Linked DNA regions of Homo sapiens: region 1 is linked to region 2. The links come from fine-mapping of genetic effects on gene expression. Tissue or cell type: blood mononuclear cells. Region 2 holds a variant in brackets; the other region holds the start of a gene. All regions are shown on one strand. Distances are between the middles of the regions.

Evidence for each region. PIP is the estimated chance that this variant, and not a neighbour inherited with it, causes the effect.
Region 1: it holds the start of DEPTOR, and the variant in region 2 is fine-mapped to the expression of DEPTOR in blood mononuclear cells (TOPMed, PIP 0.98).

Annotation. Positions count from the first base shown.
Region 1 is chr8:119,869,103-119,877,102 of GRCh38, reverse strand. It overlaps DEPTOR (DEP domain containing MTOR interacting protein), which reads right to left and starts at 3,381. Exons shown (of 9, transcript NM_022783.4): 1 at 3,135-3,381. The coding sequence starts at 3,256. RefSeq lists enhancers at 2,644-2,693, 2,784-2,883, 2,518-3,018, 3,084-3,343, 3,019-3,519 and 1 more and a silencer at 3,363-3,535.
Region 2 is chr8:119,986,052-119,994,447 of GRCh38, reverse strand. All of the region lies in intron 4 of DEPTOR (DEP domain containing MTOR interacting protein), which reads right to left. Among named protein-coding and RNA genes, the nearest start is that of DEPTOR, 120 kb to the right of the region's middle. The variant G/A (reference allele first, on the strand shown) is at 3,679.

The DNA.
Region 1 (8,000 bases), 120 kb after region 2:
GAGAGGCTAAACATATTGTCCTAAAGTTACAGAATAAATGGTGGAGGCAGAATAAGAACCCAGGCAGCCTAGTTCTATATCCTGCGCTCTTCACCACCACCCAATCCTTCCTGCCCAATCTTGCTTGGCTGGAAGTCACATGCAGTGATGCAGAGAGACCAATAATACTAATTAATTCCAGGAACTATTTGTTGAATGCTCATTAATACATGAAGCCCAGGGGCAAATTCTCGCAACTCCATGAAATACATTCATCTTCATTGTCTTTTTCAAATGTGGAAACAGAGACTCAGAGAAGTGAATTTACTTGTCCAAGGTCACAGAACTCTACCTTAGCTAATGTTGACCTGGTGCTTACTACATATCTATCAGAAACTACCCTAAGCGCAACTCATCTAATCCTCATAGTAACACTATGAGGTAAATTCCATTATTACCCATCCTTCTTCTTCTTTTTTTTTTTTTGAGATGGAGGCTCACTCTGTTGCCCAGGCTGGAGTGCAGTGGCACTGTCTTGGCTCACTGCAACCTCTGCCTCCCAGGTTCAAGCAATCCTCTCACCTCAGCCTCCCAAGTAGCTAGGATTACAAGCATGCACCACCACACCCGGCTAATTCTTGTATTTTTAGTAGAGATGAGGTTTCACCATGTTGGTCAGGCTGGTCTTGAACTCCAGACCTCAAGGGATCCGCCTGCCTTGGTCTCCCAAAGGGCCAGGATTACGGGCATAATCACTTGTCCAAGGTCCCACACTAGTAAGTAGCAAAGCCAAGATTCAGTCTAGCTTAAAGTCTTCCTTGAAACAACTTAATGCTGACACTTGCCTACATAATGGTGGAGCAGTCATTCAAACCCAGGTCTAATTCCTGCATGACAAGGATGGCTCTCAAAACTGCTGCAGTGCAGAGAGGCGCTAGAAAAGTGGGGAATAACAAGTGCTCTGGGGACTGCAAGGAAGAGGCATTTAAACTGCATCTTGAAGGAAAAAGTACTTGCTGGACAAAAAGAGCCATCATGCAATTTAATATTTGTAAAATAAATGAAAAATAAGTAACCCTATCCAACAGAAGACTTTTAAAAAGATGGCCCAGTAATGAAGAGCAGAGAAATTAAACTTTCTTTCCCACAGTAGGCTTTAAAGGGACTGAAGCCTGTTATCACTCGCCTGCTACAGCTTGGGCTTCTAAAGCCTACAAACTCTCCTTACAATTCCCCCATTTTACCTGTCCCAAAACTGGACAAGTCTTACAGGTTAGTTCAGGTTCTGCACCTTATCAACCAAATTGTTTTGCCTATCCACCCTGTGGTGCCAAACCTGTACACTCTTTTGTCCTCAATACCTTCCTCCACAACTCACTATTCCATTCTTGATCTTAAAGATGCCTTTTTCACTATTCCCCTGCACCCCTCGTCCCAGCCTCTCTTTGCTTTTACCTGGACTGACCCTGACACCCATCAGTCCCAGCAGCTTACCTGGGCTGTACTGCCGCAAGTCTTCAGGAACAGCCCTCATTACTTCAGCCAAGCCCTTTCTCATGATTTACTTTCTTTCTACCCCTCTGCTTCTCACCTTATTCAATATATTGATGACCTTCTACTTTGTAGCCTCTCCTTTGAATCTTCTCAGCAAGACACCCTCCTGCTCCTTCAACATTTATTCTCCAAGGGATATCAGGTCTCTTCTTCCTTACTCTACTCTTTACAACAGGGCTTTATGAAGTCACCCCCGCCTTCTTGGACTGCACCTCACAAACTTACACCACTATCCATCATCTACCCAACTCCTATAAAACAACCCCTTCCCCATCTCCCTTTGCTGACTCCGTTTTTAGACTCAGTCCACCTGCACCCAGGTGATTAAAAAGCTTTATTGCTCACACAAAACTTGTTCGGTGGTCTCTTCACACGGGCACCGCGTGACAGGTTTCATTAGAAAGTACTTTTGATGAAGGAAAAAAAGTTTTTATTCCCTTTAATTCTGACCACGTATTTTTAAAAATCAACAAAGAATCGATAGGTGCAATTTGCCTTTTGTAACATTAAAAATCAGTTAATTCTGACTTCCAATATTGGTCTCCTTCAGAGACCTTTGCAAGACACTCTTTCAGGTCCTGAAACACAGACATTTAGAAACCAAAACAAGCTGGGGAATTCAGGCTAAGAACTAGAAGTAACAGGGGCCCGCGTACAAGTTGTGGCTCAAACGCTGCAGAGCTGGGTTTTCTTTTTCCTGGCAAACTGATTTATAACCACACGAAGGGCAGCTGCAGAACCAGTTAGACCATAAGTACTATTCCCAAACAGCCCTAGAGGAAGGACCATACAGGGATGGGAATGGCAAGGGGGATTCTGGGGGTCGTCCTTGTTCCCAAGTTCCGTGAGACGCCGCAAGTCTTAATTCTTGCAGGAGCCAGGGTCCCCATGGATCCTGCTGCCCAAAACGTGCGAGCCCGGGGAGTTGGCACAGCCTCAAGGCAGCCCGACAAGGTGCCTCCACGCCCCCTTGCGGACCCAAATGATTGAGGACGATGTGCCAATTAACTGATAGGTGCAGGGTTTCAGAAATGCTCTCTCAGTTTAACCTCACAAAAAGCCCTTGAATCAGCCCTGTTTTACAGATGTAAAACACCGAGGCTCAGGGGAGTGAAGGAAGACTTGTCAGCAAAAAGGAAAACCTAGTGAAGACTATCGTTGGTCTTGCTCCTTTTATCAAGGAGTAGAGGGGCTGGGGTCGCCTCGGGACCCCACAGCGACCCCTCTTGCTCTCTTCGCGGATGAGGCGCAGGCTGTCAGCCGGGAGGCCTGGCGGCGTCCAGGTACACGGGAAGACGGACAGCGCGGTGGGTGGCAGGGACTTTGCCCGGCACAGGACTGCAGCAGCCAGGCTAGGGCGCAGCGCGCACCACCCGCTCGTCGGCTTCTGCCAGGCAGCCCCGCTTGGCGAGCGAGTCCTCAGGGACCGAGGCTGCAGCAGCTAAGCGCGGGCGCACCGAGGACCATCCACGCGCCCGCAGCCGTTCCGGCGCCCCACGCGAGTCGCAAGCCACGAGCCAGGGAGCGCGTGCGCGCAGGACTGCAGCGGGCACGCGTTGGCAGTGCCATCGTGAGCTCACCCGCTGTGTCTCTTGCCTTACCGTAGCTGTTCCCCGGTGACCAAGACCTCAGCCATGCGCTCCAGCTCCCTTTGCTGCGCCCCGCCACTCCCGCTGGTGCTGCTGTCACTGCCAGCACTGCCAGTGCTGCCGCCCTCCTCCATGGTTTTAGGGCCGTGCGGCTACCACTGGCTCCGCTGTCCGCCGAGGGTTTGGGTGCTCGGATCAGTCTGCCCTCACAGACGCTTCCCGCGCCATCTTTGTTCGGGGCAGCTCCGCTGCTCTGACTGGATTGGCTGGAGAGGGAATCCCTATGGGTAGGCAGACGCGCTGGGCTAGTCCGGCCCCAGAAACTTGAGCTTGGGGGCGTGGCTAGAGCCCCTCATGGTCGGGGGGCGGGGCCGATGGAGGAAAATATAAACATCTGGGCGGGGCGCTGCTACTGAGCTGTGTGTGCTGCTGGAGGCTGAATTTGGTGAGCTCTCTTTACCCACAAAGCTCATGCTGTAGAATCCTGGGGACAGGCCTGGAGGTTATTAGTGTGAAGGCGTTTTTATTGTACGTTCCACACCCCAAGTTGCCAGAGAGCAAAACATAATTCAACAATCTGGCCAAATGGTCAACAGTGAAGGTTATACATGTCATTGAAGGGCATGGAGAAATTAAACATTCTTCTCTCCCCAACCTCTCTCTCCAAAGACGACTTGTTTGCCTTATGTTGTAATCAATAAGGAACGCCGGCCTAGGAATCAGGCTGACCTGGGATCCAGCTCCGCTCCTGTGATGTCCTATTTAAATGTGTTTAATCCTCCCTTACAAAATAAAAATAATTGCGGCTACCACTTTTGACATCTGCTGCATTAAAGATACTTCAGGTATGGTATTACCTCGTTTAATTATTACAATAATTCATAAAATAGGTATTGGTGTTCGTTTTGCATTAGAATGCAGGCTTGGAGAGGTGAAGTTACTTGTCTAAGGCAAGCAAATAATAAGTATAAGAAGAGCCGGGCACCGTGGCTCATGCCTGTAATCCCAGCACTTTGGGAGGCCGAGGCGGGCAGATCACCTGAGGTCAGGAGTTCCAGACCAGCCTGACCAACATGAAGAAACCCCGTCTCTACTAAAAATACAAAATTAGCCGGGCGTGGTGGTGCATGCCTGTAATCCTAGCTACTTCGGAGGCTGAGGCAGGAGAATCGCTCGAACCCGGGAGGCGGAGGTTGCTGTAAGCCGAGTTCGGGTGAGCGGAGTTAGTGCCATTGCATTCCAGCCTGGGCAACAAGAGCGAGACTCCGTCTCAAATCATCATAATAATAATAAGAAGAAATCTAACCGAGGCAATTCTGGCTTCAAAGTTATGCTTTGAAAAGACTGAAAGACTGCCTCTTAAAATGGGGATACAATGGTATTGTCTATCCGTAAAAGATTATGAAAAGAAATTTGATTAGTACCAAATAAATGTTCTGATTTTCTGTTTCATGCAGAGTCGGAGTTGGTCTGCAGGAAGGCGAAGTAATGTTTATGGCAGTATTCATGTGTGTTGAGCATTTATTCTGTGCTTTACATTGTGCCAAACACTTTATCCTCACAAAACCCTGGAGTTTGGTATTATTTTCAACTTACAAATGAGAAAGCTTAAGTATAGAAAGATGAAGTAATCTGCCTAGAAAGTTAGGTAGCCCTTAAACCCTGGCCATACTCAGCCCCACTCCAGAAAGAGAATAGTTGCCCAACTCCCTTGAACATCCGGGAGCAGACCAGCTCTGAATCTGCATGAGACAGATGTTAGGTGACTCTTTTGCCAAAAGAAATTATTTAAGTTTCTTAATTTTTTAAATAGGCCACAATAGACATGTAGACCAAGGCAGACATAGTTCTAGGTGACTGTGATTCTAAGAGCCTTATTCTGCATAAAATACATAAATCATTCAACAGAAGTCCCAGAGTTAATGAGATTAAAAGGTGTCTGTTGCTCATGTTTTAATCTTATAACTACTAAATAGAATATCAAGAGTTTGCACGGGCTTCTCAGTCAAACATGCAATTTCTATCTCAATTCTGTCGTTTGCTAATTTTGCAACCTTATGCTAGTTATTTCTCTTGGCCTCCCTTTCCTATCGATAAAACAGGAATAATAATTTCTACTTCATAGGGATGTTGCGTGGCTTAAATGAAATAATGTAATCCCAGTTCTTTGGGAAGTTAGGGTGGGAGGACTGCTTGAGGCCAAGAGTTCAATGCCAGCCTGGGCAACATAGCAAGACCCTGTCTCTACAAAAAAAAAACAAAATTAATTACCCAGGTATGGTTGTGCATACCTGTAGTCTCAGCTACTTGAGAGGCTGAGGTGGAAGGATCACTTGAGCCCAGGAATTCAAGGTTACAGTGAGCTATGATTGCACCACCGCACTCCAGTGTGTGTATCAGAGCAAGACCCTGACACTTAAAAAAAAGAAAAAATAAATAACATTAAAATTTCTATTATGTAAAGTTTCCAAGATCCATGTCAGTAACACAAATTTGTAACTTTAAGATAAAAAAGCACCTTAACATAAAGAAAAGAAAAGAAAATTCGAGTTAGGAAAATACCTGATGCTATTGTTCCAGTGACAGTGAGAGAGCATGATTTATTTTTCTTGCCTGATAAGAGGTGTGTGTAGGGGGCGGTGTGTGTATAGGTAGGTATATTTGAACAGGAAATGGGAACTGGTTTGCTGTTATTGTTTTAACCTTTTGACATATGACACACACCATGCTCCACTGGGTAAGAAGACAGATCCTTTTTCCTAACTTAGGGAAAAATTGGTGAGCCACATCCTGAGGACATGTCCATGACTGTGAGCCCAGGAGCAACTGGTTCCAGATAAACTGTAATTTTTTAGATATTGATCAAGGAGAAAAGGGCACTCATATGGCAACTAATTCAGCATAAATATTTCAGAAAAACAGAATTCTGACAAACCTTGGTTTGATTCTTGGCCATGTTTGGGCAAGCTCCTTATCGTCTCTGAATTTGCTGTCCCTCTTTTGTAAAATTTAGATAATAACACCAATCTCATTGGGTTATTGGGAGGATTAAATAAAATTTACTGAAAGCACTTATTACAGGTGGGAACTATTAAGTGTGAGCTTTCTCTTCTAGCTCTCCACACTTTTCTCTTCTAGCTCTCCACACTTACCTCTTTCATGCCTTCTGTCTGTTTTGGTGCTTTGGGGCCAGTGCTTCTCAAAGGTTTGGCGGGGAAGATCCACCTGTGTGTGTGTGTGTATGCTTTCAACCCATTGAAGCCTGATACTTTGATGAAATACAATAATACAAATGAAGCCAGGTGCAGTGGCTCACGTCTATCATCCCAGAACTTTTGGAGGGTGAGGTGGGTGGATCACTTGAGGCCAGGAGTTGAAGACCAGCCTGGCCAACATGGCGAAACCCTGTCTCTACTAAAAATACAAAAATTAGCCGGGTGTGTTGGCAGGTGCCTGTAATCCCAGCTACTTGGGAGGCTGAGGTGGGAGAATTGCTTGAACCTGGGAGGCGGAGGCTGCAGTGAGCCAAGATCGTGCCCAGTTAGCAAACCACACTTGGAGTAGCACTGGTGTGATAAACACTTCCTAAAGGTCAGCAGCAATATAAAAAGGAGATGAACTTGAATTGATAAAATGCATGAAAGAATACTGTCAGCTATGAAGATTAATATGTTAGCTGTCATGATTATTGTTGCCTTTTAATATGCATTGGTATTATTCTTGCCTGATTTTAATTAATTAATTAATTAATTATTTTTTGAGACAGAGTCTCCTCTATCAGCCAGGCTGGAGTGCAGTGGCATGATCTTGGCTCACTGCAGCTTCTGCCTCCCGGGTTCCAGCAATTCTCCTGCCTCAGCCTTCTGGGTGGCTGGGATTACAGGCATGTGCCACCAGGCCTGGCTAATTTTTTTGTATTTTTAGTAGAGACAGGGATCTCACCATGTTGGTCAGGCTGGTCTTGAACTCCTGACCTCAGGTGACCTTCCCACCAGCCTCCCAAAGTGCTAGGATTATAGGCATGAGCCACTGTGCCGGGCCATCCTGCCTGATTTTAAAGGCTAACTGAAATGCCACCTTCTCTGGGCTATTTTCCTGCACTTCTCCAAGCAGTTTATTGCTATTTATCGCCCAAGGGGTTCACCTTGCCCACTGCCTAGAAAGAGCCGATTCATCAAGACAGGGGAATTGCAATAGAGAAAGAGTAATTCACGCAGAGTCGGCTGTGCTGGAGACCAGAGGTTTTTTGTTGTTGCTGTTTGTTTGTTTGTTTTTAATTATACTTTAAGTTCTGGAATACACGTGCAGAACGTGCAGGTTTGTCACATAGGTATACATGTGCCATGGTGGTTCACTGCACCCATTAACTGGTCATCTACATTAGGTATTTCTCCTAATGCTATTCCTCCCCAGCCCCCCACCCACTGACAGGCCCTGGTGTTTGATGTTCCCCTTCCCGGGTCCATGCGTTTTCATTGTTCAACTCCCTCTTATGAGTGAGAACATGTGGTGTTTGGTTTTCTGTTCCTGTGTTAGTTTGCTGAAAATGATGGTTTCCAGCTTCATCCATGTCCCTGCAAAGGACAAGAACTCATCCTTTTTTATGGCTGCATAGTGTTCTGTAGTGTATATGTGCCACATTTTCTTTATCCAGTCTATCATTGATGGGCATTTGGGTTGGTTCCAAGGCTTTGCTATCGTGAATAGTGCTGCAATAAACATACGTGCGCATGTGTCTTTATAGTGGAATGATTTATAATCCTTTGGGTATATACCCAGTAATGGGATTGCTGGGTCAAATGGTAGTATGCAGCCAACAGACATATGAGGAAAAGCTCATCATCGCTGGTCATTAGACAAATGCAAATCAAAACCACA
Region 2 (8,396 bases):
GGGAAGTAACTAGATTATGAAAGTCAAAGATCGTTTTTATAGTCATAAATTATATAAGTAGAGGCTCAAGAATTAACAACAGCTAAATGACATAGAGTTTGTATTCCAGAGGGAGAAAAGTTGATTTTTTTTGTACACCTTTTTGGGACAGTCTTGCTCTGTCATCCAGAGTGGTGCGATTTTGGCTCACTGCAACTTACGCCTCCAGGGTTCAAGCGATTGCCCTGCCTCTGCCTCCCAAGTAGCTGGGATTACAGGCATGAGCCAACACGCTCAGCCTGATTTTTTTTTTCTTTTTCTTTTTTTTTTCGAGATGGAGTTTTTGCTCCGTTGCCCAGGCTGGAGTGCAATGGTGCGATCTCAGATTACTGCAACCTCCACCTCCTGCGTCAGCCTCCCGAGTAGCTGGGATTACAGGCACCTGCCACCACACCCCACTAATTTTGTATTTTTAGTAGAGATGGGTTTTCACCGTGTTAGCCAGGCTGATCTCAAACTCCTGACCTCAGGTAATCTACCTGCCTCAGTCTCCCAAAGTGCTAGGATTACAGGTGTGAGCCACCGCACCCGGCCTCAGCCTGATTTTTTCCTACACATTAACATGCAATACTCCATACTGAATATAAAAATCCTTGCTACATAAACAACTTACTTTTTGTTAAACACAGAAAAAAAAAAATCCATGATATGGAAAAAAAAGTAAAGAGAAGGAAGAAAAAAGCATGGGGAACAGTTTGTGCCTGTAAGTCTTAAATTTGTTCCAATTCTACATTTCTCAGATCCCAGTGATATACAGGACCTTCGTATTATAGTAAATATAATACATACCATTTGATAAATTTCATTTTTTGCTCCTTGGAACTATTTATCTGTAAACAGGACAAAGATTCAAAGAGGCAGTGTTCAACATCTACATTCAATATCTAATGTTCCAGTTGTGATCTTACCAGTTGTAATTGAAAACTGACAATTTGTTACTCATCCAATTGATAATTTCTGGGACTTTCCAAGCCTTCCCTTTTGCTTTGGTAGAATTCTCTAGGGCCTTGTCTTGACTTCGTATTAAATGGGATTTAAACTAGGAAGAAAAGCAGATGTAGCCAGAAAGCTAGAGCCACATAAATACAACAGGATCTCTGTTTAGGAAAGTTGGAACTTTAGAAGCACTCAATTCACTATTTGGTCAAAGAAAAACAGATCCCTATACACCGTTAGGTTTAACTGCAGAAATCATGAGGGAAATGTCATGTAGTTTACCAAAATAATAAAGTGACATGGTACAGATATATTCTTCTTTCTGGGGATAACGTGACTACATTTTCCTCCCTTATATATTATTAGGATGATTTTAGCAGACAAAGAAATAATAGAAGCTGATTACTTAAAAGGGGGGAAATTGGCTCCCATTCAACTCATGCATGTAGTCCAAGGATGAATATAAAAATGTATCATCTTGAATTCTACAGGTTCTCCTGAATATAAAACTATTTTCGTTGGGCGCAGTGGCTCACACCTGTAATCTCAGCACTTTGGGAGGCCGAGGCAGGTGGGTCACCTGGGGTCAGGAGTTCGAAACTAGCCTGGCCAACATGGTGAAACCCTGTCTCAGGTAAAAACATAAAAATTAGCCAGGCATGGTGGTGCGCACCTGTAATTCCAGCTACTTGGGAGACTGAGGCACGAGAATCACTTGAACCCAGGAAGCAGAGGTTGTAGTGAGCCAAGATCATGCCACTGCACTCCAGCCTGGGCATAGAGTAAGACTCTGTCTCAAAAAAAAAAAAAAAAAAATTTACTCTACTTATCTAGTTGGAAGGAGGAAGGTCACATACTTTCATTCATCCTTGAAATGCTTGCTCATAAATGATATAACACAACAGGCATCATGAAGCATGTGAACTGAATCCAGCACTACGATAGCACCATATAGGGAATGCGCAGACATCAACTGTGCCCTGGATGACACATCATCAAAAATTTTTAAAAGGTGGTCTTGGACTTACGGTCACGTAAACAACTTAGTAGACTGAAAACAGACTTAAACAGAGAGGGAATAAAGATGATGATTATCCTACTGAGGAAGAAGAAGGTCAGCAAGATGGGGCTAACTGCAAACCAGTGTCAAAGTTACAGAGGTCATCAAGATCACCTTAAAGACATAAGACCCTCACTAGCTGCCAGCTCACTGCTTCACCAAGTGCACAAGGGTGGCTGGGGCTTCTGTGAAGGATCATTTTTTTGGTCACCAAGGATGGCACTCTATCCAACCATTCACTCCTTTTCCTCTTATTTTCTTAGCTACTACTGATCTCTGATAGACTAGCCCTGATAGACATTGCTCAAAATCACAGATAAACTGCAAGGATAAATGGATGGTAGACCTATTCCTTAGACTTGGTGTTTCTAGAAGGTGAGTAAATTCTGCATACAAAAGTACTGTGGTTTCCCTGCCAGCAAGACTTAAGCTTTAACTTCTTTCACACATCCAGGGATAGATTTGCAGTATTTTGTCTTCTGGGTCCTGCTAGATCACAGTCTGACAGAGTCCAAGCATCTGATATCATTTAGTATATTTCATAATTTAAAAATGGTCAAGACTGAAGAAATATTCATAACATGCTTTTTAATCATGCATTTGTAGAAAAACCTTATTTAAGAATTAGTTACAATAGAAAAGTTGAAGCTATTTTTTTTTAAAGAAAATCTGACTGGAGGCTATTAACCTTAGTACACTTATGCAGGAACAGAAAACCAAATACCTCGTGTTCTCACTTGTAAATGGGAGCTAAATGTTAGGAACTTATGAATGCAAAGAAGGAAACAATAGCCAAGCCAAGCGTAGTGGCTCATGCCTGTAATCTCACCACTTTGGGAGGCTGAGGCAGGCAGACCACTTGAGGCCAGGAGTTCGAGACCAGCCTGGCCAACTCAGCAAAACCCCGTCTCCATTAAAAATGAAAAAAGATTAGCCCGGTGTGGTGGCACACGCCTGTAATCCCAGCTGCTTGGGAGGCTGAAGCACAAGAATCACTTGAACCCGGGAGGAGGAGGTTGCAGTGAGCCAAGATTGTGCCACTGCACTCCAGCCTGGGAAACAGAGCGAGACACTGTTTCAAAAAACAACAAAAAAAGACCAGGCCCTGGGGCCTACATGAGGGGTAAGGTGGAGGTGGGAGGAGGAGAGGAGAAGAAAAGATAACTATTGGGCACTGGGCTTAATATCCTGGGTGATGAAATAATATGTACAATAACCCCCCGTAATACATGTTTACTTACATAACAAACCTTCGCATGTACCCCCAAACCAAGAATAAAAGATTTAAAAAAAAAAGAAAGAAAGAAAGAAAGAAAGAAAGAAAAAGAAAGAAAGAAAGAAAGAAAGAAAGAAAGAAAGAAAGAAAGAAAGAAAGAAAGAAAAGAAAACCCGAGCTGTACTTAAGGCCATCTCAACCATCTCAAGCCATCCTAAATGGAAGCAATAGTTGAAGGAGCCCTATTTCCTAAAGCAGCAAAAGTCCTTGAATCGACTTTTCAAAACAGTAAGCAATTGTTTTTAAGTGCCTACTCCATAAAAACGGTGCTAGCTGCTTGGGATACAAAACTCTCCAAAAGGCAATAACAACAGTGAGTCAGAGGACTAAAATAATTACTTCCTTAGCACTGACAACATTAACAAGA[G/A]GATATGAAAGCAGGAAATTGATTGTAGGACATAAAGTCCTATTAACTGATATTACTGAAACAAAATACTTCACATTCACAAAGTTATAACCCACTTACACTTATTTAATTGATTGAAGGGAGGCAAGAGGATGGAAAAGAAGTAAAAGGATTCAAAGTAACTTTAGTAAAGATAGAAAACCAAACATGACACTGTGATTGTCTGAGTGCTGCAGCTTCTGTGTCTTACTGCCAGAAATGTAAAGGCAATAAACAGATGGAAAGTCAAACTATGTTTTATTCTTCTGTATGTATCATTAAACGATAGCTGGGGTGGCCGGGCATGGTGGCTCACGCCTGTAATCCCGCACTTTGGGAGGCTGAGGCGGGCGGATCACCAGGTCAGGAGATTGAGACCATCCCGACTAACACGATGAAACCCCGTCTCTACTAAAAATACAAAAAGTTAGCTGGGCATGGTGGTGGGCGCCTGTAGTCCCAGCTACTCGGGAGGCTGAGGCAGGAGAATGGCGTGAACCTGGGAGGCGGAGCTTGCAGTGAGCAGAGATGCGCCACTGCACTCCAGCCTGGGCGACAGAGTGAGACTCCGTCTCAAAAAAAAACTAAATAAACAAATAAAAATAATAGCTGGGTACATTCCAAAGACTAGAAAGAACCTCTACTGTTAGTGATAACATGCAGAACAAGGGGTAGGATTTTCAAAGATAATCTTGTTTATCAGAAACTAGATTGTACTGTAAGTGCAGAGAAGCCTAAAAACAAAATTATTTCATCCGGCAAATGGAATATCTCAGATACATAATTCAACAAAAGAAATCTGTAACTCTATTCTAGATCTTTTGAAATTATTGGCAAAATAATTAAACCCAAAGGCCCGATCAAAGTATTTCAGTGTTGATTTACTTAACAAGCACGTAATAGCAGAGAGTATGTATAAGATACTGTTCAAGACCAGCAATGGATGAGGTCATCAAATACATTAAGCTTCACCCACTCAGGCATCTGATAATGAGAATGTAGATGATAAAAATAATGATAATTATCATTTACTGAGTGATAGATAGCCTGTGCACGGCCCTGTGCCAAGCACATTACAGGTTTATATCATTTACTTCTCAAAACAGTACTATGAGAGAGTTATTATATTCCCATATATATTATATTCCCATATTATGATTCCCAGTTTACAGATAAGGAAACTGGGGCTTAGACAAGGCAAACTTGCCCATGTATCTCAGAGTCACTAACAAGAAGATCCAAGAGAGAAGTGCTGACGGACTCACTCCAGGTCTCACCCCTGAACCTCCACACTAGACTGCCTCCCATTTCAAGGTGTGATCATGGAAACGAGGAGGCAGACAAGCTTGCAAAACAAGAGAGTGGAGTCTGCTTTGCCCACATTTATTCCTGTTTCCAGGTTACAGACGGTAATTTGGCTGGAAATGTTTTCCATAAAATTCTTAACCAATGGCCCGGCACGGTGGCTCCTGCCTGTAATCCTAATATTTTAGGAGGCCAAGGCACAAGGGTCACTTGAGCCCATGAGTTTGACACTAACCTGAGCAACATAGTAAGACCTTGTCTCTATTTATTTAAAATAATTTTTAAAGAAATATTCACCACCATAAAATGCTAATTACTTTGGAATTGCTTACCAAAAGAATGTGGCAGCCAGGCACGATGGCTCATATATGTAATCCTAGCACTTTGGGAGTCCAAGGTAGGCAGATTACTTGAGCTCAGGAGTTTGAGACTAGCCTGGGCAACATGGTAAAGCCCCATCTCTATTAAAAAAAAAAAAAAAAAAAAAAGAAAAAAAAAAGGATATGGCTATAGCACAGAAAACATTGCTCTGATCTCAGATAGCCCAGGGTTGAATGCCAGTTTAACGATTTACTTAATTACTTAACTGCTCTGAATTTTAGTTTTCTTCATCTATAAAATGAATTGGAGGAACAATGAAACAACATATGTAAAAGGCCTAGTAGGCCGGACACGGTGGTTCACACCTGTAATCCCAGCACTTTGGGGACCCGAGGCGGGCAGTTCGCTTGAGGTCAGGAATTCAAGATCAGCCTGTCCAAAATGGTGAAACCCCATCTCTACTAAAAATACAAAAATTAGCCAGGCATGGTGGTACACACCTGTAATCCCAGCTACTCGGGAGGCTGAGGCAGGAGAATCACTTGAACCTAGGAGGCAGAGGTTACAGTGAACCAAGATCACACCACTGCACTCCAGCCTGGGCAACAGAGCAAGACTCCATCTCAAAAAAATATTTGTAAAATAAAATTTAGACCTGGGCAAGATGGCCGAACAGGAACAGCTCTGGTCTGCAACTCCCAGTGAGATCAACGCAGAAGGTGGGTGATTTCTGCATTTCCAACTGAGGTACCCGGTTCATCTCATTGGGACTGGTTAGATAGTGGGTGTAGCCCATGGAGGGCGAGCAGAAGCAGAGTGGGACATTGCCTCACCCAGGAAGCACAAGGGGTCAGGGAACTCCCTTCCTTAGCCAACGGAAGCCCTAAGGGACTCTGCCATGAGGAACAGTGCATTCCAGCCCAGATACAATGCTTTTCCCACAGTCTTCACAACCCGCAGACCAGGAGATTCCCTCGGGTGCCTACACCACCAGGGTTTCAAGCACAAAACTGGGCAGCCATTTGGGCAGGCACTGAGCTAGCCGCAGGAGGTTTTTTTCATACCCCAGTGGTGCCTGGAACACCAGCGAGACAGAACTGTTCACTCCCCTGGAAAGGGGGCTGAAGCCAGGGAGACAAGTGGTCTAGCTCAGCAGTTCCCAACCCAATGGAGCCCAGCAAGCTAAGATCTACTGGCTTTAAATTCTCACTGCCAGCACAGCAGTCAGAGGTCGACCTGGGACACTCGAGCTTGGTGGGGGGAAGGGTGTCTGCCATTACTGAGGCTTGAGTAGGTGGTTTTCCCCTCACAGTGTAAACAAGGCCACCAGCAAGTTTGAACTGGGCAGAGCCCACCACAGCTATGCAAACCCATTGTAGCCAGGCTGCCTCTCTAGAGGCAGGGCATCTCTGAAGAAAGGCAGCAGCCCCAGTCAGGGACTTATAGATAAAACTCCCCTCTCCCTGGGACAGAGCACCTGGGGGAAGGGGCAGCTGTTGGCGCCGCTTCAGCAGACCTAAACCTCCCTGTCTGCCAGCTCTAAAGAGAGCACTGGATCTCCCAGCACAGCACTCGAGCTCTGCTAAGGAATAGACTGCCTCCTCAAGTGGGTCCCTGAATCCCATGCCTCCTGACTGGGAGACATATGCCAGCAGGGGTCGACAGACATCTCATACCGGAGAGCTCTGGTTGGCATCTGGCAGGTGCCCCTCTGGGACAAAGCTTCTAGCGGAAAGAACAGGCAGCAATCTTTGCTGTTCTGTAGCCTCCACTGGTGATACCCAGGCAAAGAGGGTCTGGAGTAGACCTCCAGCAAACTCCAGCAGAGCTACAGCAAAGGGGTCTGACTTAGAAGGAAAACTAGCAAACAGAGAGGAATAGCATCAACGTCAACAAAAAGGACATCCACACAAAACTCTATCCGAAGGTCACCAACATCAAAGACCAAAGGTAGATATATCCACAAAGATGAGGAAAAACCAGCACAAAAAGACTGAAAATTCCAAAAACCAGAATGCCCCTTCTCCTCCAAAGGATCACAACTCCTCACCAGCAAGGGAACAAAACTGGATGGAGAATGAGTTTGACAAATTGACAGAAGTAGGCTTCAGAAGATGGATAATAATAAACTCCTCTGAGCTAACAGAGCATGTTCTGACCCAGTGAAAGAAGCTAAGAACCTTGAAAAAAATGTTAGAGGAATTGCTAACTAGAATAACCAGTTTCGAGAAGAATATATATAACCTGATAAAGCTGAAAAATCACAGCATGAGAACTTTGTGAAGCATACACAAGTATCAATAGCTGAATCGATCAAGCAGAAGAAAGGATATCAGAGATTGAAGATCAACTTAATGAAATGAAGCATGAAGACAAGATTAGAGAAAAAAGAATGAAAAGGAACAAACATAGCCTCCAAGAAATATGGGGCTATGTGAAAAGACCAAACCTATGTTTGATTGGTGTACCTGAAAGTGACAGGGAGAATGGAACCATGTTAGAAATCACTCTTCAGGATATTATCCAGGAGAACTTCCCCAACCTACCAAGACAGGCCAACATTCAAATTCAGGAAACACAGAGAACACAACGAAGATACTCCTCGAGAAGAGCAACCCCAAGACACATAATCATCAGATTCACCAAGGTTGAAATGAAGGAAAAAATATTAAGGGCAGCCAGAGAGAAAGGTCGGGTTACCCACAAAGGGAAGCCCATCAGACTAAGAGCAGATCTCTCAGAAGAAACTCTACAAGACAGAAGAGAGTGGGGGCAAAATTCAACATTCTTAAAGAAAAGAATTTTCAATCCAGAATTTCATATGCAGGCCAAACTACGCTTATAAGTGAAGGAGAAATAAAATCCTTTACAGACAAGCAAATGTTGAGAGATTTTGTCACCACCAGGCCTGCCTTACAAGAGCTCCTGAAGGAAGCACTAAATATGGAAAGGAACAACCAGTACGAGCCACTGCAAACACATACCAAATTGTAAAGACCATTGACACTATGAAGAAACTGCATCAACTAACAGGCAAAATAACCAGCTAGCATCATAATGACAGGATCAAATTC